2 linked regions of the Homo sapiens genome follow. The protein of the gene in region 1 purifies or fractionates together with the protein of each later gene. This does not show direct contact. Each region holds a gene or a part of one and is shown on either strand. Other genes may lie near its edges. The genes, in order: TRIM3 and MYO5A.

What was found.
Region 2: the proteins of TRIM3 (region 1) and MYO5A purify together in Homo sapiens (affinity purification with western blotting; 2 studies listed by BioGRID, with this or other methods). This does not show direct contact.

Annotation. Positions count from the first base shown.
Region 1 is NC_000011.10:6,461,902-6,472,171, forward strand, and holds part of TRIM3 (tripartite motif-containing protein 3), read right to left. Parts: intron 5,623-10,270; exon of another isoform or gene 5,605-5,622; intron 3,832-5,604; coding exon of another isoform or gene 3,795-3,831; coding exon 3,664-3,794; intron 1-3,663.
Region 2 is NC_000015.10:52,523,950-52,534,634, forward strand, and holds the start of MYO5A (unconventional myosin-Va), read right to left. Parts: upstream 4,932-10,685; 5' UTR 4,858-4,931; coding exon 4,831-4,857; intron 254-4,830; exon of another isoform or gene 233-253; coding exon of another isoform or gene 134-232; intron 1-133. UniProt on the Homo sapiens protein: Processive actin-based motor that can move in large steps approximating the 36-nm pseudo-repeat of the actin filament. Can hydrolyze ATP in the presence of actin, which is essential for its function as a motor protein. Involved in melanosome transport.

The sequences.
Region 1 (10,270 bases):
ATAAAATCCAAACACTTTCTGAAAACCTACAAGCTCCCCCTTAAACTGCCCTTATTCTCTCCAATTTCACCTCATCCCACTTTACTCCTCACTTGGCCACACTGGTTTCTTTTCTGGTATCTGAACATGTCCTGTCTACTTCTTCCTCAAGGCCTTTGCACAGATTTTTCTATTGCCTGGAACAATCTGTCTCCTTCTTATCCTCAGAACTCAGGTCAAATGTCACCTCCTCAGGGAAGCCTTCCTTGATGACTATATAGAATAGTTCTTGCCCCAAACACCCCTACTTCTCTCTGTTTATATCCTGTAAAACATTAATACAAGCTGCAGCTCTCGTTTTCTTGATTGCTTACTGTCAGTCACTGCCCACTAGAACATCCTCTGAGAGCAGGGACCAAGGGATACATGAATGAATACTAGTTGACAGTGAAGGCTCTGCAGTGAAAACTGGATTCAGATCTCAGCTATTTACTTACTGTGTAGCCTTGGAAATATTTCTTTTTTTTTATTTGTTTATTTAATTTAAGATAGAGCCTCTCTCTGTCACCCAGGCTAGAGTGCAGTGATGTGATCATGGCTCACTGCAGCCTCCACCTCCCAGGCTCAAATGATCCTCCCACCTCAGCCTCCCGATTAGCTAGAACTACAGGTGCATGCCACCACACCCAGCTAATTTTTAAATTCTTTTTTAGAGACTGCATCTCACTATGTTGTTTCCCAAGCTACTCTGGAACTCCTAGGCTCAAGTGATCCTCCCACCTTGGCCTCCCAAAGTGCTGGGATTACAGGCATGAGCAACTGCACCTGGCCAGAGATATTTCTTAATTATTTACTGACTTTGAACCTTAGTTTCCTCCTCTCTAATATGGGGATACCTGGGTGTGGTAGCCTGCACCTGTAATCCCAGCTACTCAGGAGGCTGAGGCAGGAGGATCACTTGAGCCCAGGAGTTCAAGTCCAGTTTGGGCAATATAGCAAGACACTCATCTCTAAAAAAAAAATAAAATTTAAAAAATTGAAACAAGCTGGGCACGGTGACTCACGCCTGGAATCCCAGAACTTTGGGAGGCTGAGGCGGGCAGATCACAAGGTCAGGAGTTCGAGACCAGCCTGGCCAACATGGTGAAACCCCATCTCTACTAAAAATGCAAAAATTAACCGGATGTGGTGGCGTGCGCCTGTAGTCCCAGCTACTTGGGAGGCTGAGGCAGGAGAATCACTTGAACCCAGGAGGCAGAGATTGCAGTGAGCCAAGATGGCGCCACTGCACTCCAGCCTGGGTGACAGAGAGAGACTCTGTCTCAAAAAAACAAAAACAAAAACAAAAAACAAACCAAAAAAAATTAAAATGAAAAGTTACATTAAAAAATTAAAATAAAAAAATAAAATGAAGTTAATAAAGTATCTGTTGCAGGGATTAAGGAAATCAGTATGTATAAATCACTTAGCCAGTCCCTGGCAAACAGTAAGCAATCAATACATGGTAGCTACTGTTATTACAATTTCTCAGCCAGATTTTCTCCAGGAGTGCTCAGTGATCTGGGCACAGGAGAAAGTGCAGAGACATCCAATTTCAGCTCTGATCCAACATTGAGCTTCTATTGCATGGGTTTTGCAAAGGATAAAGATGTGAAGGAACTGCAGGGGAGCCAGTCGGTCAGCCACAGGGTCCAGGATGGGCAGGAAAGACAGGGAGGCCAGGACGCAGCTGGTGACTGGGAAAAGAGGGAGCAGTCAAAGGGGCTAGATATCTATATTGTATCGAAAGTGGTGTAATGGGAGTGGGGTAACGGGAGCCAGGAGTGGAACGTTGGCGTTTATGACTACAGATAAGATTCTGGATTATAAGATTCAGGGCATGGTTGGGAGGGAGTGTTACTGAGGTGGAATGGGGGACAACCCTGAAGAAACAGTTAAGAACCAACAGGCACAAGAGGGTGGTTGTCCCCAGGCTGACAGAAGAACTTGAATGGACAGGAAAACTGAGGCCATTTCCAGTTGATAAAGGAGAGTGGGCAGTGGAGCTGGAATCTCAAAGAGCAGGGCTGGCAGGGAAGCAGTATCTCTGGTGCAGAGCCAGGTTTCCGTTGGGGCAGAAGGCAGAGGAAAAGTGCGGATAGAGGCAGTGGTGGTGAGAAGACCTAGGGACCAGGCCACCCAAGACAGAACAATGAGAGATAAGGGCCCAAGAGAATATTGTCAAAATACAGATGTGATCACATATAAAACCCTGCAAAGGCTTCATGTGGCTCTCAGGGTAAAGGTGAAATTCCCTAACAGGTCTACAAAGCCCTAGGTGGTCTGGCCTCCACCTACCTCTCCAGCTTCATCCCATAATACTCTCAGTCACACTCACTCTGCTCTAGCCCTACCAGGCTTCCTCCAGGCCTCTTACCTGACATATTTTCTCATGTCACATGAGCTTTTCCAATGGTCTTTCTTCTGTGCAGAATGCTCTTCCAACCCCCTTTACCTAGTTAACTCCTATTCATCCTCTGAATTGCTCCTCAGGGAAACCTTCCCTGATTCTCCAAACTATAACAGATTCCATATGCCAATCTCTCATAGCTCAGCACTTTATTTGCAGCACTTACTAAAAGTTATATTTATCTATAATCTGGCTATATGATTATTTGATGACTATCTTTCTCTTTCACTATACTGTTAGCTCTTTAAGAGTAAGCATTGTAAGTGATGGATACCTTAAATACCCTACTTGATTGTTACCCATTCTATGCTTGTGTAACAATGTATCACATGTTCCCCATAAATATGTAAACTATTGTGTATCAGTTTTTAAAAAGAGTAAGCACGGTAGCTCACGCCTGTAATCCCAGCACTTTGGGAGGCCGAGGTAGGCGGATTGCCTGAGTTCAGGAGTTCAAGAACAGCCTGAGCAACACGGTGAAACCCCATCTGTAATAAAATACAAAAAGTTAGCTGGGCGTGGCGGCGTGCGCCTGTAGTCCCAGCTACTCCGGAGGCTGAGGCAGGAGAATTGGTTGAACCTGGGAGGCAGAGGTTGCAGTGAGCCGAGATCGTGCCACTACACTCCACCTTGGGCAACAGAGCGAGACTCCATCTCAAAAAAAAAAAAAAAAAAAAAAAAAGAGTAAGGATCTTATCTGTTTTTGCTCATCACTGCATACCCAATGCCTAGAACAGGGTCTGGCACATAGTAGTTGCTCAATAAATGAATATTTGTTAAATGAATAAGTGATCCATAGAAGCCTAGAGGCTGGGACAGGTTGCCTTTCACTCAGTACCTGAGGACAACAAGGACAAGCAGGGAAGGACAGACCTAACTTCAAATATCCTCCAACTAGTCATAAATTGCTGATGCCAAAGCTGGTTGAGTCTGAGCACTGTTTGATTTCTTAGGTGGTGTCAAAAGCTGCCTTGAGGTTTGGGAAAGGACAGAGAAGGCCCTATTCTTGACAGGAACCATGGCCCAGTGTTATGGTTCTTATGGTTCTCTCACAGGTTCTTGCCCTCAAAACCTCATTTCCTGCAGGTTGGGGTTCACCTGCTCTCCTCCCAGGTAAGCATGTTGCCTCACCTACTACAGGTTTACACATGCTCCCTCACCCTCCCCACAGGGGAGGAGGATCCTCATCCTCCCCACAGGGTCCTCATCCCTCCCCAGTACACACATCCCCTCACCTCTCACAGAAGGTGTGCAGGCAAGGAAGAACCTTGGGGCACTGGTACCGATCCAGGCAGATGCTGCATACCAGGAACTGCTTGTCCATTGGCTGGACCTCTGGGCCAGGGCTGTCCTCCCTCTTTGCCATGGCGCCCACAGATGGCTCCCGCCACTCACACCAGCCTCTGTATGGAGAGATGGTCAGCACCAGGGAGTCCAGAACTTCTTCTCCCCACCCAATCCCCGCCACTCAAATCCCCTGCAGAGAACTTGCCCCCACCTCTTCCCTGCTAGGGGCAAGACAGGGCAGTGACTGGAAGGATCAGGGTGATGTGACCTCTGAGCCTGGTGTTCTGTTTAAGAGCACAGACGTAGGATTAGATTGGGTTTCAAACCTGGCTCAGTCTCTCACCAGCTATGTGAGCTTGGACAATCCATGTAACTTCTCTGAGCCTCAGTCTCTTAATTTGTAATTACAGGAATAATAATTTGAGAGTGTGACATAGTGCCTGTTGAGTGCATGGTACAGAGATGTCCATTTTCACTGACATACCTACCCTTCATCTCCTCTACCTCCCCCAAATCCTCCTCCAAGAGACCTGAATGGAGTGTCTCTCCTCTAACTACCTGCAGCTCTTCCATTTATACCCTGACCCACCTCTTAGCACAACTGCCTGAAACTGCACTCTTTTTCACACCCAGTTAGTATCAAGGTCGGGATTGCTTCCTGAATATCTTAAACCCTTCTCTCCAATCCCACAGTTACTACCCCTAATTCAGGCAACCATCTGTTCTCTCCTGGAATACAGCAATAGCCTCTTAACTGGTGTTCTTGTCTCCTCACTGACACCTTTTCATTTATCTTCCTTGAAGCCAGAATGAATTTTCTAAAACACAGATTTGATCTTGTCAGTACTCTGTTTAAATTCCTTCAAATGTTATCCATTGTCCAAAGTCCTTATATTGACCAGTGAGGCTTAACTTTGCCCCATACCTTTTCTACAACCTCATGTCTCATAAGTCTATGATCAATCATTCCTGCTGGGTTTTTTTTTTTTTTTTCCAGTTCCTGGAAAATTCCTTGTTCTCTTTTGCTTCTGGGAGATCAGGCATTCGTTCTCTCTGTCCTGGGATCCTTTTCCTGGCCCCTTTTCCTGGCTGATGTGACACCTACTCATCTTTCAGGTCCCCATATAAATGTCACCTCCTTTAGAAGACCTTCCATGACTACCCAGAGTCTGGCTTGGGTGCTCTACCTCTGTGTCCCTCAGCACCCTGTATTTACTCCATCCTAACTCTTATAAGCTATGCTGTAATGTTCTTGTTACTTCTCTGCTTTCTCCACTCCATGCAGTGTTATTGAGGATAGGCATTTTATTTATTTATTTATATTTTATTTTATGTTTTCATTCTTAGCACTTAGCACAGAGCCTGACATAAAGATTGATCTATATTTACTGAATTGATTTCAGGAATTCAATAAATATTTACTGCCTACTTTGTACAGGTGTTAGGAATGGAATGATAAAACAGACAGGGTCACTGTCCCTGTGGTGGGGAGGTGGTGGCAGATATTTTAAAAGTAAATAATAGTGGCAGGGAAGTGATATAAAGAAAAAAGGGATGCTGTGAGAAAGAACACTTTTGATTGAGTCATCAGGGAAGGCTCTCCAAGGAGGTAACTTTTAAGCAGAATTCTGGGTGGATGGGAGAAAAATGGTATGGGTGAGGGTGAGAAACAACAGGGAGTCAGGAAGGGAAATCATTCTAGGCTGAAGAAACAGCATGATAAAGGTTCTTAGGCAGAAGGCTCATGGAGAACCTGAAAGGACTGTGTGGTTGGAGCCAAGTCAATAAAAGGAAGAGGTGAGTTTGGGAAGATAGGTAGAGATGAGATCATGAAGGACCTTATAACCGCCATTAAGAATGTGATTTTGGCTGGGTGCAGTGGCTCATACCTGTAATACTAGCACTTTCAGAGGCCAAAGCAGGAAGATCGTTTGAGCCCAGGAATTGGAGATCAGCCTGGGCAACATAATGAGACCAATATCTACAAAAAAATTAAAAATCATCTAGGCATGGTGGCACACACCTGTAGTCCAGGCTACTTGGGAGGCTGAGGTGGGAGGATTGCTTGAGCCCAGGAGGTCGAGGCTGCAGTGAGCCATAATCGTGCCACTGCACTCTAGCCTGGCATGAGACAAAGTTGAGATTCTGTCTCAAAAAAAAAAAGTGATTTTATCCTAAGTTGGAGGGGGGGATGATGTGGTTTATAAATAAGTGAAAATAAATTAGAAAGCTACTCTGGCAAGCTGTGAGAATTGAAGACAAAGAGAAGCCAGAGTGGAATCAGAGAAAACAGTTAGGAAGCTACCAAAGTTCTTTGGGTAAGATAATGTAGGGTATCATCTGAGCTACAAGCAAAAAGCTGGACTGATTTGAGAAATATTCATTGGCCGAGCAAGGTGGCTCACATCTGTAATCCCAGCACTTCGAGAGGCTGAGGAAGGAGGTTCACTTGAGCTCAGGAGTTCGAGATCAGTCTGGGCAACATAATGAGACCCCATCTCTATAAAAATAAAATAAATAATAAAAGAGAAATCCAAAGGACATCAAGATGAACTGGGTGTGAGAGGGATGTCAATTATGACTTAGCTTTCTCATTTTAGCAAGTGATGGGCCATGAATAGAGACAGTGAAAGCTGAGGTGGAGCTGATTTGGGGCATTCTGTTCTATGTATGCTAAGTACAATGTGTCTCTCTGATGTCCAGGTAGAGCTGTCAAGTAAGAAACAGAATACAGGAGCTCAAGAGAAAAGTCTGGACTGGTTATTGATTTGGGATCACTAGCATATAAATGGCACTTTCAGCAATGAGAAGACATGAGCCCACCTAGGGACAGAGGGCAGACAGTGATAAGAAAAGGGCCTGGCACAAGAGAGGGGAGCCAGCAAAGGTGACTCTGAGAAAGAGAACCCAGAGAAATGGTAGGAAAACCAAAAGAATGTGAAACCAAAGAAATCAACAGAACAGTGCAAGAAAAAGAAGGGGTGAAGTAAGAAACGGACTGAAGAGTGCCCACTAGATTTGGCTGTGGTGGGGTGGCAGGGGCAGAAGCCACGTCAGAGTGACTGAAGAGTAAATGGGAGATGAAGTTAACACAGCAGATGTAGACAATACATGGCAGGGATTTGGTCATGAAGGGTGGCAGAACAACAGCTGGATTACTCCAAAATAGGCAATGAATAGGACCAGGTCACCATTGTCTGTGCTGTTGGATGCATTATGAGCCTTTTTCTAAAGACTGTGAATGAATGAATGAATGAATGAATGAATGAATGCAGGAGCGAGTCTAGATTTGGGGAGGGATAGAAGGGCTGAGTTGCTGTGCCTTATGTTTGTGTAAGGGTGGGCCTGGGTAGAGTGTGAAGGGCATGCCTGAAAGTATCCTCTGCTGATGTAGACACTGGCATCCTGATGTTCTCTCTACAGTTGTAATGGGTTCTGGAGTCTGAAGACTTAATACCAGGAAAACATAGCAGGAGGGAGGACAGATTGAAGGTTGGCGGAAGGACCAGGAGGCGGGAGGCAAGCTGAAGCCTCTGTCTGGTGAAGGGAAAGGCTGGGAGGAAGAGTGGGAGTGGTCTGCTGGGTCCTGCTGGGGTAGCTGGATGCCAGGCTCCACCTCTCTCCAAGCCTAGGGGCTCTCCCAGACTGTCACACAGGGGCGGGGATTGGGCTATGTCCAAGGACCAATAGCTCCTCCCCCACTCCTCCCCTTCCTGCTTCAGTTCCCCTCCCAGACTTACTGGGCATGCAGCCGCTGAGGCCATACCCCTGCCTGAATCTGAGATTCTCTTCCTCCCGTGGGGTCCTAGCTCTTCCATCCCACTGTGCTCTAGAGATTTGCCCCCAAGATCCTATAGGTGGTGGTTCAAGTGAACTGTTTATCACAGCAGACACTTATAAGGCCTTGGTCTCAGAGCCAGACTTTACTCTCCTTTCTCATACTGCCTTCTGCTATCCCTGTATTGGTTATTCCCACCATACTTTATGGCTTAGTTCTCAAGGCACCTCACTCCCTCATTCAGCATTCACTTGACACTGCTGCTAGGCCTGGGGACACAAAGACAAATAGTCACAGCTCAGCCTTCATGGATTCCACAATCTAATAAATAGATTACTGCAATGTAAAGTGGTGAAGACCATGATGAGGAAGCACCAATTGCTCCAGGAGTACAAAGGTTACCTAACCTAGATCTGGAGCAGGGGTGGGTCCAGAGGTTGGAGGCCAACCTTTCTCCTAAAGAAAGTAACTTTAGTAACTCCTAAAGAAAGTAACGTTCAAGCTGAGGATGAGTTACAGAGAGTATGGTGCCTTTTGCATCAGGAGGCTGAATCAGACACTGTGATGGGAGGGCTAAGAAACAAGATGGAGAGGTAGGCAAAAGATATATCATGCAATGCCTTGTTGGTCTTATTAAGGAGTTTAGACTTTACGCTTACCTGCTAGGGGATGAAGGATTTATCCAAAAAGCAAAGGAAAACTTTGGTAGTGGTGAGGGCTATTAAGTATAGAGTGACAAAAGTACATTTTTGGCTGCTATGTGGAAAATAGTTTAAAGGGCAAGGACGGAAAATTAAGAAACTGCCTTGATTAGGAGAATAGCAAAGACAGGCCAAGATAAATCAATTTTGCAGGGGGATATCAACTGAACTTGGTGGCTGGGTATTTACATGTGAAGAGTTAGGGGAGAAGAAGGAATTAACAGATGATTCTTTGGAAACTCTCAAAGAAGAGCAGTTTGGATGAGAGGGTGATAAGTTTGGTGTTTATCTTTTAAGGTTTTTTCAGTTTTGTTTTTGTTTTTTAAGAGACAGGGTCTTACTCTGTTGTCCAGGCTGGAATGTGGTGTTATGATCATAGCTCACTGTAGCCTCAAACTCCTGGGCTCAACTAATCCTCCTGCCTTGGCCTGCCAAAGCGTGGGGGTTGCAGGCATGAGCCACAGCACCCAGCTAGAGTTCACTGTTTAATGTGATGAATCTGAGGTGCCTATGGGATGTAATTCAAGTGGAGAGGTCCAGTTGGCAGTTGGAAAGATACGCTGAAGCCTAAGAGAGAGGTCTGGCCTGGAGACATGAATGTGGATGTTGGTGCAGAGATGGTTCCTGAAGCCATGGGCGTGGATGACATTACCCTGAGAGGGTAAAGAGAGAAAGGAGGGTCTATCACCAAGTCCCAAGGAACCTCAATATTTAAGAGATAGGCCCAGGAAGCAGAGTCTGCAAAGAAGATTGAGAAGGCACAACCAGAGAAGCAAGAGAATCAGGAAACAGATGTCATGAATGCCAAGGGAGAAGAGAACTTCATGAACAAGGGAGTGAAATGCTGCAGAGGTCCCATTATTTAAGCCCCAAAGAGGCTTTCATTAACCTCAGAGCATGTGGTTTTCAGGGGATGGAGGACAGGAAGCCAGATGCAGGGAGTCAAGCAAGAAGCTGATTGTGAACAAATGAAGACAGCCAGTGCTGACTCCACTAGATCCTGGACATCTGCAAAGGATGTGTTTCAAGGCTTTTCAGTTTCTCCAAATTCTCAAATAGCATTAATTTTCCCCAGGACTTCCTCCTACAATCTCACAGGATTCCCAGTACACATGAGTTACACAGTTGTGAATGGAGGTAACCAAGGCATTGTTGAAAATGGATGCGAGAGGTCAGCTAGGCTCATTTGCTTGCTAAAATAACTCACGTCTACTCACTAGCTTCCAGGTTTATCTGATCATTTGAGACCTCAAAAAAATGACAAATGACTGCAGGTTACAGTCTTTGGGCTTTCTCTGAAACAAATGAAGCCTTGGATGAGGCAAAGTCCTTAAAGCCAATGAATCCTTTAAATAAGATTAGCAGGGAAGGAAAGCAATGAAATTCATGGCCATCTCCCCCAACATTGCCAGACTGAGTAAAGTGAATGAACCATTCAATCAAACTTCTCTGGGCACACTGTGGGCCAGGTCCTTCAGCTGTGAAATAGAGACACAAAGCTGAATCAGACACACTCCCTGTCTTTCACAAGTTTTTAGACTAATGTGAGAAACAGAAATGGAAACACGTAACTACAATGTGATAAGTACCATGATATTGACATGTTCAAATTGCTACAGCAGCAAACTGGAGGAAGTACCTAACTCTGAGGATGGTACAGAATAAAGAAGGCTTCCAGAGGAAGGGGTATTTGAGCTGGGTCTTGAGAGACAAATAGGACATTGATACGTACATTGGGAAAACAGTGAGTAAAGAAACAGAAACATGAGAAACTAAGAAATATGGAACAGATGGACAAGATTGCAAATCTCCAAAAGGCAGAGGTTATACATGATGCTTTTACATCCTAAAAGCATAAAAATAAATATGCTAAAAATAAATAAATCTAAATAAATAAATAAATAAAAGGCACCACCACTCACCCACCCACACAAGCGAGAACCCTGGTAGTCTTCTCAATTACACCTTTTCTTTCACCTTTCAGATACAAGCTATGACTACATCCTCAATTCTGCCTCTGAAATTTGGCTAGGTTTAAAAAGTTAGGAGATCTAGGATCTAGTCCTAATGCTGTAA
Region 2 (10,685 bases), on another chromosome or scaffold:
TCAGTAGTTTGAAGAGACAGTGCCATAGAATATAAAAGTGGATCTATCCCAGAAAAAATCTAGGCCATGTGGCTCCTGTATATATGAGAGGATATGTTGGGAATGGAAAGTTACACATATACAATCTACTGACCTTAAGAGCTGTTTCATCTAGGCAAGTTAACATGCTTTGCAAATGTGGAATTTTAGATTGTCTTTGCACTGTTACAATACTCAGCATCTCAGCACACATGGGAACCTCCTAATCAAACAGCTTCAGGTAAAAACAAAACAAAACACAAAAGTAAACAAAAAAATTAAAACTTTTTTAAAATTAAAAATAAGCCAGGCATGGTGGCTCATGTCTGTAATCTCAACACTTTGAGTGGCCGAGGCAGGAGAATCATTTGACCTGAGGAGTTAGAGATCAGCCTGGGCAACACAGCAAGATCCTGTCTCTGTAAAAAGTACAAAAATTAGCTGGGTTTGGTAGCACATGCCTGTAGATTCAGCTACCCAGGAAGGTGAGGTGGGAGGATGGCTTGCACCTGGGAGGTCGATACTGCAATGAGCCATGTTCACACCACTACACCTCAGCCTGGACAACAGAGTGAGACCCTGAACCTAAATAAATAAATAAATAAATAAATAAATAAATAAATAAAATAGGCTGGGTGTGGTGGCTCATGCCTGTAATCCCACACTATGGGAGGTGGAAGCAGGAGGATCACTTGAGTCCAGGAGTTTAAGACCAGCCTGGGCAACATACTGAGACTATCTCTAGAAGAAATTTAAAAATTAGCTGGGTGCATAGCTGTGGTCCCAGCTACTCACGAGGCTGAGGTGGGAGGACAGCTTGAGCCCAGGAGTTAAAGGCTACAGTGAGCCATGTTCATTTCACTGCACTCCAGCCTGGGTGACACAGTGAGACCCTGTCTCAAAAAAAATAAAAAATTAAAAAAAAAAAAACCCAGCTTCAAGTAATCTTGACCATCCTATAGCATGGATACCATGGTGCTATCCATGGTGTCTGGGAACATGATGACAGGAGGAATAGCATGCCATTCATTATAATGTTCCCGATAATCCTTCTAGGTCTAATTGATAAACCCTACTCCACAAATGTAGAATTGCTTCTAGTTACCAAAAGCACCTATGGATGATGTATGATATAGATATCCACTGGCAAGTCAAGACTAGCAAATATTTTCAAAATCAGAAGCAATGAGATATCATAGTTTCCTTTAATTCTTTTGGGAGCAAGGCAGGTTGACCACAAACACATCAACATACTACTCTGTGAATAAACCAAAAACCATTGAATAGTACACTTTAAATGGTGAATTATATGGTATAAGACACATATCTCAATAAAGCTGTTATTTTTAAAAATCAACAAAACATGTTTTAACCAAAATATTCGTTTCCAGACAAGTATCCCAAGAACCTAGCTATTGTCCTTAAAATGTTTATACTGCTGGAAAAACTTACAAAATGGAAGCCTTGTTAAATTGCTGTGACAAAACCATTACCATTCTGGCTAAAAAGAAGAAATTGAACAGTCTCTTGTCCTTCACTGTAATAGGAACTGATCTGTATCACACATTAAAATCTGCCCTTAAGATCTGAATGACATTTTTTTAAAGAGCACTTTTCAGATTTAACCACAATGTTAAATACCATAATTATGGCATATCACTAATACATCTTTCCTTGTAATCTATCCTAGAACTTCCTTCCTATAATCCTCTGCAAGGGGAAGATCCTTGTGCTTATCCACTGATAATACTTCTAATGATTTTCCTATTCCTCTAGTAATTACAATAGTAGTTTTTATCTCTGGAATCAGCCCAACCTTCCCCATGTCCCAACCCATTCCCTAACTTCTACTAATAAATATCATACCAGCTGTCTGCCTGCTGTTGAGGTAACAGCAGGTTATTTATGCCCCTATAGATTCAAAGTGGGTCAAGAATGTAAGAAGCAGACTATGAGCGTGTTGAGGGAAAGGACTGTATCTTGTTCATTGTTAAATCCTCTAAACATTAAGCAAAGTACCTGGCACACAGGATGCCTGATAAGTATTTCTGCTTGCCATTAAGCTAAGGCCCATTCACAAAAAGAATTTGCCAACAAATAACCAAGTAACCAGACTATTAATTAGGCATAAGTATATTTAGAAGAAGGCAGTGTAAGCCCCAACTTCAGTCTTGATCTCTAAGCCAGTCTGTCTTTATAATGACAAAGAGGTTAAAAAAAATTTTTTTTCAACACACGGTCTTGCTGTTTTGCCCAGGATGGAGTGCAGTGGCACAGTCATGGCTCACTGCAGCCTCAACCTCCCAGGCTCAAGCAATCTTCCTGCCTCAGCTGATCATCCTGCCTCAGCTCTCGAGTAGCTGGGACCGCAGGCGTGACTAACTCGCCCAGCTAATTTTTATTTATTTATTTATTTATTTTTTGAGACAGAGTTTCGCTCTTGTTGCCCAGGCTCGCGATCTTGGTTCACTGCAACCTCCGCCTTCCAGGTTCAAGTGATTCTCCTGCCTCAGCCTCCTGAGTAGCTGGGATTACAGGCATGCGCCACCACGCCCAGCTAATTTTCTATTTTTAGTAGAGACGGGGTTTTGCCATGTTGGTCAAGATGGTCTCGAACTCCTGACCTCAGGTGATTCACCCACCTCGGCAACGTGTTGGGATTACAGGCGTGAGCTACCGTGCCCAGCCTAACTTTTTAATTTTTTTGTAGAGACCAGGTCTCATTATGTTCCTCAGGCTGTTAAAAGGTAAATTTTAAAATAGATTGTGATAAAGCTGTGACAGAAGCCCAAAACTTTACCATTTACAAATCACAACATCTTTTCAATTTTTTCTCCCAAATTATCCTGGGGGAAAAAAGCATTCGAAATCCAACAACAATTTATTATCCACTCAGTCTCTAGTTAAGCAGCCTACTATTAGGTGACTCAAAGATGACTGCTCACCATATAGAACGGAGGGTGTCCAATCTTTTGGCTTCCCTGGGCCACACTGGAAGAAGAATTTTCTTTGGCCACACATAAAATACACTAATGATAAATGATGAGCTAAAAAAAAAATTGCAAAAAAAACACAACAACCCATGTTTTAAGAAAGTTTATGAATTTGTGTTGGGGCACATTCAAAGCCGTCCTGGGCCCACATGCGGCCCATGGGCTGCGGGTTGGACAAACTTGATGTAGAAGTGGAGGGGATGGGCTACACAAAGTAACCAAGGAATGTTTACAGACTGATTATCTCTTCATGTGAAAATGATTTTGATATTTCTTAATATCGACCTCATAAGTTCCTTATGAGGATTATGAGTTCATATTTTTAAAACGCTTAAAACAGTACCTGGCACATAGCAAGCACCATATTAAGTGTTTAAGTTACTTTTAATCAGTTTCCAATTGCATTCGTTCATATGTTAGAGATCTACAATGCCTAAAGAAATTACCAGGTTGAGAGAGAAGTTCCAACTGTACAGTCGTTAAATCTAAAACTAGAAAGAAAGAGGTCTCAGACAATGTTTCATGCAAGCTCATTTCATGGTTGAAGAAATTAATCATATATCTCATATTTGCAGAGAAATTCATAGGTTACAAAAAGCTTTCACAACGATTATTAAGTTTGATTCTCACAACAGCTTGTAAGGGATGCAAGGCAAGTATAATTAACTGCATTTACTCATTAGGAAATCGAACCAGAGATGTTAAGTGACTTGTCCAAGGTCACAGTTAGTAAGTCCCGGCTTGAATCCAGGTCTCTTGATGCCCAGTCTTCTTTCCTCTACAAAACACACTGCAACTTGGGCCCTGGACTTCAGTGACATTTGGAAACAATGATTCCAGTGATTACAGGACCCTAAATGAAAGTTCTGTTGCAAAAGCTAATGTGAAAAGGCAACTCTATTAACTGCATGTAGAAGTAATCAATATCTGGCAAAATATCTACCTACACATGAGTGTACAGTATAAAATGCCATGATTACATATATTCACAAAGGTCATCACAAATCTGCGCAGCACTCAAGTGACAGTTCTCCATAATATGTCATTCAGAGATCGCCAGACCCTGAGTATATTGATGTCAGTCTAAGAAAAGACTGCCACTTCCCTTAAACCAAACCCAGAAGGGAAAGGCTTGCCCCAGAGGATGGTAAAGACATGGAGCCTAACAAGGCTCTGCGGGATTACACGCAGGTTGCAAACTCCCAGCGATAAATGAGTACCGACCCTCCCAGCCGGTGAATCAGCTCGCGTTCATCCGGCAGCATCTTTCCCCGGGGCTCGCCACCCCCAGCGCAGCTAAACTGGGGAGCTAAAGGTGATACGGCCACCGTTTGCAGGATTCAAAATAACCTCACAGAAAGGCTAGCTGGCGGTAGAAGCGGCACTGCATACCAACACAAGACGTTATTTTAAGCGCGTGTCCCCACGAGAGAACCCATCCGATCTACTGGAGCAAGCATCTCCCACCCGCCGGGAATTTTCCAAAGCCAAGCAGGAGGGGAGGCACGCCCGCCCTGCTAAATCCACATGGGCCCCCTTTCCACTCCGAAGCCCGCTCTGCCCCCAGCTCGAGCAGCGCGGCAGGGGCCTGGGAGACCCCCGAGGCGGGCCACCTTCCGCCGCCTTCACCATCTCGCCCGAAAGAGGAAGGTGCCGCAGCGGGCGACCGGCTGGTAGGGCCGAGGGTTCTGAGGCGCTGAAGGGGATGGCGCTGGTGGGGCTCGCCTGGGCCCGGCGCTCCCGCCCCCTCCCCAGCCTGACAGCTGGCGGCGAGGGCCGCACAGCCCCAGTCCTCGACGCCGGCCGCGGGGTGCCTTACCTTTGTGTAGAGCTCCGACGCAGCCATGGCGGGCCCCGCGCGCCTACGCCCCCCGCCTGTGCGGAGGCCGCACCTCGCCTGGGCGGCCGCCCGAGCGGACTAGGAAGCGCCCGCAGCCGCCGGCAGGGAGCAGGGCAGGGCAGGGCCGGGCGGGGAGGGCCGCGCGGGGCGGGGCGGGGCGGGGCGCCTCAGGCGCTGGCCGCCCGCAGGGGCCTCGCCATCACTCCCGGGCTCGCCGCGAGCAGCCGCGAGCGCTCCACCTGCCCGGGGTCCTAGGGGTCGCCGCCGCCGCCGCAGCCACTTCGGCGGCCCGCGATGCTGCCTCCGCTGCCGCCGCCGCCACCGCCGCCGCCCTGTGCATTATGGGAGCGGGAGGAGGCTGCGCTCCAGCGCTGCCACCGCGGCTGCTCTGGGCTCTCTCGGGCTCACGCTGCCTCCCATCGGCTACGAGCACAGAGCATCATCATCATCAGCCTGCCAGCCGGCCCCGCCGCCGCCTCGCGCCCTGCCGAGGCCCGGAAACCCGCCCGGGACGTGAGCCCCGAGGGCGCGGCACACCCCGGGCGCCCCCACCCCGAAGCGAGCCCGGGGCCCTCTGCTGCGGAGCCTAGCTCCCGCGGTAGCGCAGCCATGGCACGGGCTGTTACTGTGTCCGAATAAACGATGGGAGCCTCCAGGCTGCTCCTCCCGTCCTTCCAAGCATTCCTAGGGAGAGGATTTAGGGGAAGCCCTCTTGAAAGACTGTAGAATAACCCAGGACTGTAGAAGAGCCTTGTCAGCAGCAGTGACCCGGGAGATGGGCAATGCAGGACCGGGAATTTCAGGTTAAGGTTGATCACCAAGGTCATTCCGAGCACCTCGATGTCTGCAGCAAAGTCGTCTCCCGATACCAGAGGGCAAGGGCCGCTTCTAAGCTACAGAAACTTAAGTGACTTTGAAACGAGATAGCCCGGGGACAGCCCAGGTGCCTCTTTCCTAGACCTGTGCGTTTGCGGAGATGCAACTACCCTTCTGTCCCAGCCTTCTTCCCGTCCTGTTCGCTGCTGGTGATTGTCGGCTCCATGGTGGCACCTGAAGTTTATCCGGTTGCCACCTGAAAATGACGGAGTACTTACATGGAAAATCTGTATTACAGTTTAACTCAACATCAAAAGGGCAAAGCCGCCCTCACTCTCCTCACGGTGATCCTTGAACATCCAGCACAAGAATGTGGTCTTTCTACTCCCAACCCTGCGCTGTCTTCATCCTCTATCTTCTCCCCACCCTCATTGTCGTTTCTGGTTGAATAATCTTCATTCTTTATTGTTGTCGTTGTTGTTGTTGCTGTTTTTGTTTGTTTAATCCCTGCCTCTTTGTAGTGCCCTCATCTCTCGTTTCTTTGAACTACAACTGGTCCCCAGTGCCTGTCATGGTAATCTGGTAGACCATTTCTATCACGAACAACTCTCATGGCTGAGGCCCCCGGTTGTGTGTGTTGTGTGCGTGTGTATTTGGAGAAAGACCATTCACTGAAAGGAACGGGGCCAGTCCTTACTCCGTGGAACTCAGACCTCTCCTCTTCGCCCACAATCCCCTCAGAAATGCTAGAGGGAATGTCTACTGAGTCGAAAGTCCTACAGATTTGTCTCTGTTCCTTCCCATTGCAAAACCAAATCGCTTTCATGTTTCTGGGACCCACTCTTTCTTCACCCAGACATAAAAAGAGAAAACGTGTGCAGTGACGACCAGCGGAACGGAAGGAGCACTGGACTGAGATTTAGGAGGCCTGGCTCCTACGCCTTGCAGTTTCTTCATGTCGTGTGCAAGGTGGTAACCACTCTGCCTGTTTTCTCACCTTCAAATAATACCTACCTCTCAGGACTGTCGAGAAATGCTGAGTATACTGAGAAAAAAAAAAAAACTAAAAAACTGGACGAGTTCTTGTAGGTGTGAATGCTTTCTTCGTTTTCTATTTTTTTCAAGTGATGAGGAGAAAACAGAAAGGGGAATTATCCTCTTATAAGTCCAGAACGCATGCATTCAACCACTCAAATATTTGGGGCCATACTAAGAGGAAGGTAATGGAGATGAGGAGGAGAAGAGTTTTGTATTTTTATTTATTGATTGATTGATACTGAGTCTTGTTCTCTTGCCTAGGCTGGAGTCCAGTGGCACAATCTCGGCCCATTGCAACCTCTGCCTCCCAGGTTCAAGCAATTCTCATGCCTCAGCCTCCTGAGTAGCTAGGATTACAGGTGTCCACCACCACGCTCAGCTAATTTTTGTATTTTTAGTAGAGACGGGGTTTCACCATGTTGTCCAGGCTGGCCTCAAACTCCTGACCTCAGGCTATCCGCCCGCCTCAGCCTCCCAAAGTTCTGAGATTACAAGAATGAGCCACCACGCCTGGCCGGGTTCTGTATTCTTGACCTTACTTTACTTTGTTCAGAAAAAAAGCAGAGTAAAAAGCCAGAAGCAGCAAAGGGAAGCCCCGAGGGGTGGCCTCCGCTCACTTCCATGTATGCGTTCATAGTCCCAAGCACCCTGTCACTAGTGAGGTGTAGAAATCAGCAATAGTTACAGCTTCTAAGGGTTTAGGATCCCCCTCTCAGAGTAGCCAGAGGGTAGTGTATTCTTAAGTTGTTAAAGTTTTCCGTTATTGCTTTATTATTGGGAGCATTTTTATGTAGGGTGTTTTCAAATGAAAACAATGTCTAGGTTTATATGAAAAATTCCATTCCTTATTTTCAACAAATATTGGAAGCTATCATATGCCAGACATTGTTCTACATGTTGAGAATTCAGGCATGAGCAAAACAGATGAAGAGCCCTGACCCCATGGAGCTTCCATTCTAGTCAGGGAGAAAGACAATGATAGAGTTAGAAGGTAAAGTTGGTAAGTGGTGTATTAGTTTCCTAGGGCTGCCATGATAAAGTAATACAAACTGTGCTTAACCAACGGAGAGGTATTATCTCACAGTTCTGGGGTCTAGAAGTCTGAGATCAAAGGATTGGGAGGGTTGGTTCCTTCTGAGGACTGTGAAGCAGAATCTGTTCCTTGCCTCTCTCCTGCCTTCTGATAGTTTGTGGACAATCTTTGGCATTTGACATTTTTTAGCTTTTGCTACATCCCCCAATCTCTGCCCTCATCTTCATGTGGCAGGCTCCCTGTGTGTGCGCATGTCTCTATATCCAAATTGTTCCTTCTTATAAGGACACAGTCATAATTGAATTAGGGCCCAACCCACTGCCCTCATCCTAAGTTGATCATCTGCAAAGATGGTGTTTCCAAATAAGGTCACACTCACAGGGATGGTGGGGTGGGGAGAGGTCAGAACTTCAACATTTTTTGAGGGACACAACTCAAACCAGAACAGTATGCAATGAGAAAAAACATACAGAGAAGAAAGAATTTGGGGGAAGAAGCAATTTGAATTAGGGTAGTCATCAAATTCCAATTGAATTATTTTTAATTGAGGGCTTATTATATGTCAGCACTTAAGATAATAAAGATATAGAGATGAGTGAAACATGATCACTGGCCTGGAGGAGCTCACTGCAAGGGGTGGCTGGAGGGGTAGCAGAAGAGGCAGTCCTTGCTGCACGGTCATACAAAATAGTAACTAATTCTGTAAGATTGGCCCAATTCTAGAAGTAGAAGCCCAATGCTGTGTTACTGGTTATATATAGTACATCAGTTGAGATTGGCATATCCTAATATTTAATGCTTCAGAGGACTAGGTACTGGGCATAGGTGACATTTAAGTCAGCGAGAAAGAACTCCAAATAGTTCATTGAGAGATCTAAGTGGTGATATGGATGGGAAGTCGTTTGTGGTTGAAGGACATGTGGGGGAACAGCATGAGGAAATGAAGCTATGGAACAGAAAAAAGTCAAGAATACAGTAAGGCTAACTGAAAACACTTTTGAAAGATGGGAGGCAAGTATCAGGAACTGCTTGGCTTCCCACCTCTTCCCTTCCCCAACTCCAGCTAGTTATTCTAGCTGCCCCTCACCTGTGAGCTTAGGCAACCCTAGGAAAGGAGGATAAAAAAGTGCTGTACTTAACTCAAAAGGTACAATACTTAATTCAATATCAAATAAATAATATATGTGAAAATTTTATGTGCAAAGTATATTGTAAATGTAAATTATTTTATTTTTTATTTTTTGAGACAGAGTCTCACTCTGTCGCCCAGGCTGGAGTGCAGTGGCATGATCTCAGCTTGCTACAATCTACACCTCCCTCTCGGGTTCAAGCGATTCTCCTGCCTCAGCCTCATGAGTAGCTGGGATTACAGGCACGTGCCACCACACCCAGCTAATTTTTGTATTTTACAGTAGAAGCAGAGTTTCACTGTGTTGGCTAGGCTGGTCTTGAATTCCTGAACTCAAGTGATCCACCTGCCTTGGCTTCCCAAACTGCTGGAATTATAGGTGTGACTCACTGCACCTGGCCTATTACTATTATTTTTATTCCCGATACCTATTACTATAATTCTGGATTCTAATCTTGTGTGTCCTAATGTATCTGTCTGATCTCTGGTCTTTTGTACCCCAGTCTTCTAGCCTGTGTCCTGACCACCTGCTATTTGACCAGCTTGTGTATCTCTATGCTTAGCTCCATGGCACCTGATTGCTTCAAACAGTTGATTTTTTTTCTTGGATCTTTAAATACTTCCAGCCCAATTCCATAGACTTCATATTGCCTTGATCTTCCTGAATGACATCATGTTATAGTACTTGTGGACCCCCTCTCATCCTGTACCTCCAACACCCACAGACACACACTTGCCTTACATGTCGTGGTGATGGAACCTCTTGAATAGTGAAAATGACTTAGATCCAAATGGCCTAGATTCTAGTCCCAGTTCCAACCTAGAGCAAGTCAGGGGAGCTTTTTAAAATAATAATAATAATAATAATAATAATAATAAACTTTTTATTTTAGAACAGTTTTAGATTACAGAAAAATTGCAAAGATAGTATGGAATTCCCATATATCCTGCAACCAGTTTCCCCTATTATAAATGTCTTACATTTTTATGATACACTTGTTACAATTAATCAGCCAATAGTGACTTGTTATAATTAACTGAAATACATACTTGACTCAGGTTTCCTTAGTTTTACCTAATGTCCTTTTTCTGTTTCAGGATCCTGTCCAGGATGCCACATTACATTTAGTCGTCATGTCTCATTAGGATCTTCTTTATGACCTGAAGCCTTATTTAAATTTAAAAAAAATTAAAAAAGAACAAAAGATCTTCCTAGCTGACAGTTTCTCAGGCTTTCTTTGTTTTTGATGACAATTTTGAGGAGTATAGGTCAGATATTTTGTAGAATGTGTCTCAATTGGGCTATGTCTTGATTAGACTGGGATTATAAATTTGTTTTGCCTTTTTTTGTTTTTTTTTTGAGACAGGGTCTCACTCTGTCACCCAAGCTGCAGTGCAGTGGAGCAATCTAGGCTCACTACAGCCTCAATCTCCCAGGCTCAAGTGATCCTCCTTCCTTAGCCTCCCAAGTAGCTGGGACCACAGGTATGTGCCACCACGCCTGGCTAATTTAAAAAAATTTTTATCAAGACAAAGTCCTACAATGTTGCACAAGCTGATCTTGAATCTGTGAGCTCAAATGATCCTCTCACCTCAGCCTCCTCAAGTGCTGGGATTACAGGTGTGAGCTACTAAGACCACAGAGTAAAATGTCATTTTCATCACATCACCATGGTCACACTACCAACATGACTTTCCATTGTTGATATTGACCTTGATCGCCTGGCTCAGGTTGTGTTTATCAGGTTTCTTCACTGTGAAGGTGTCTTCTCCTGCTGTTATGGGCTGAATTGTGTCCCCATCCAAAATTCATATGCT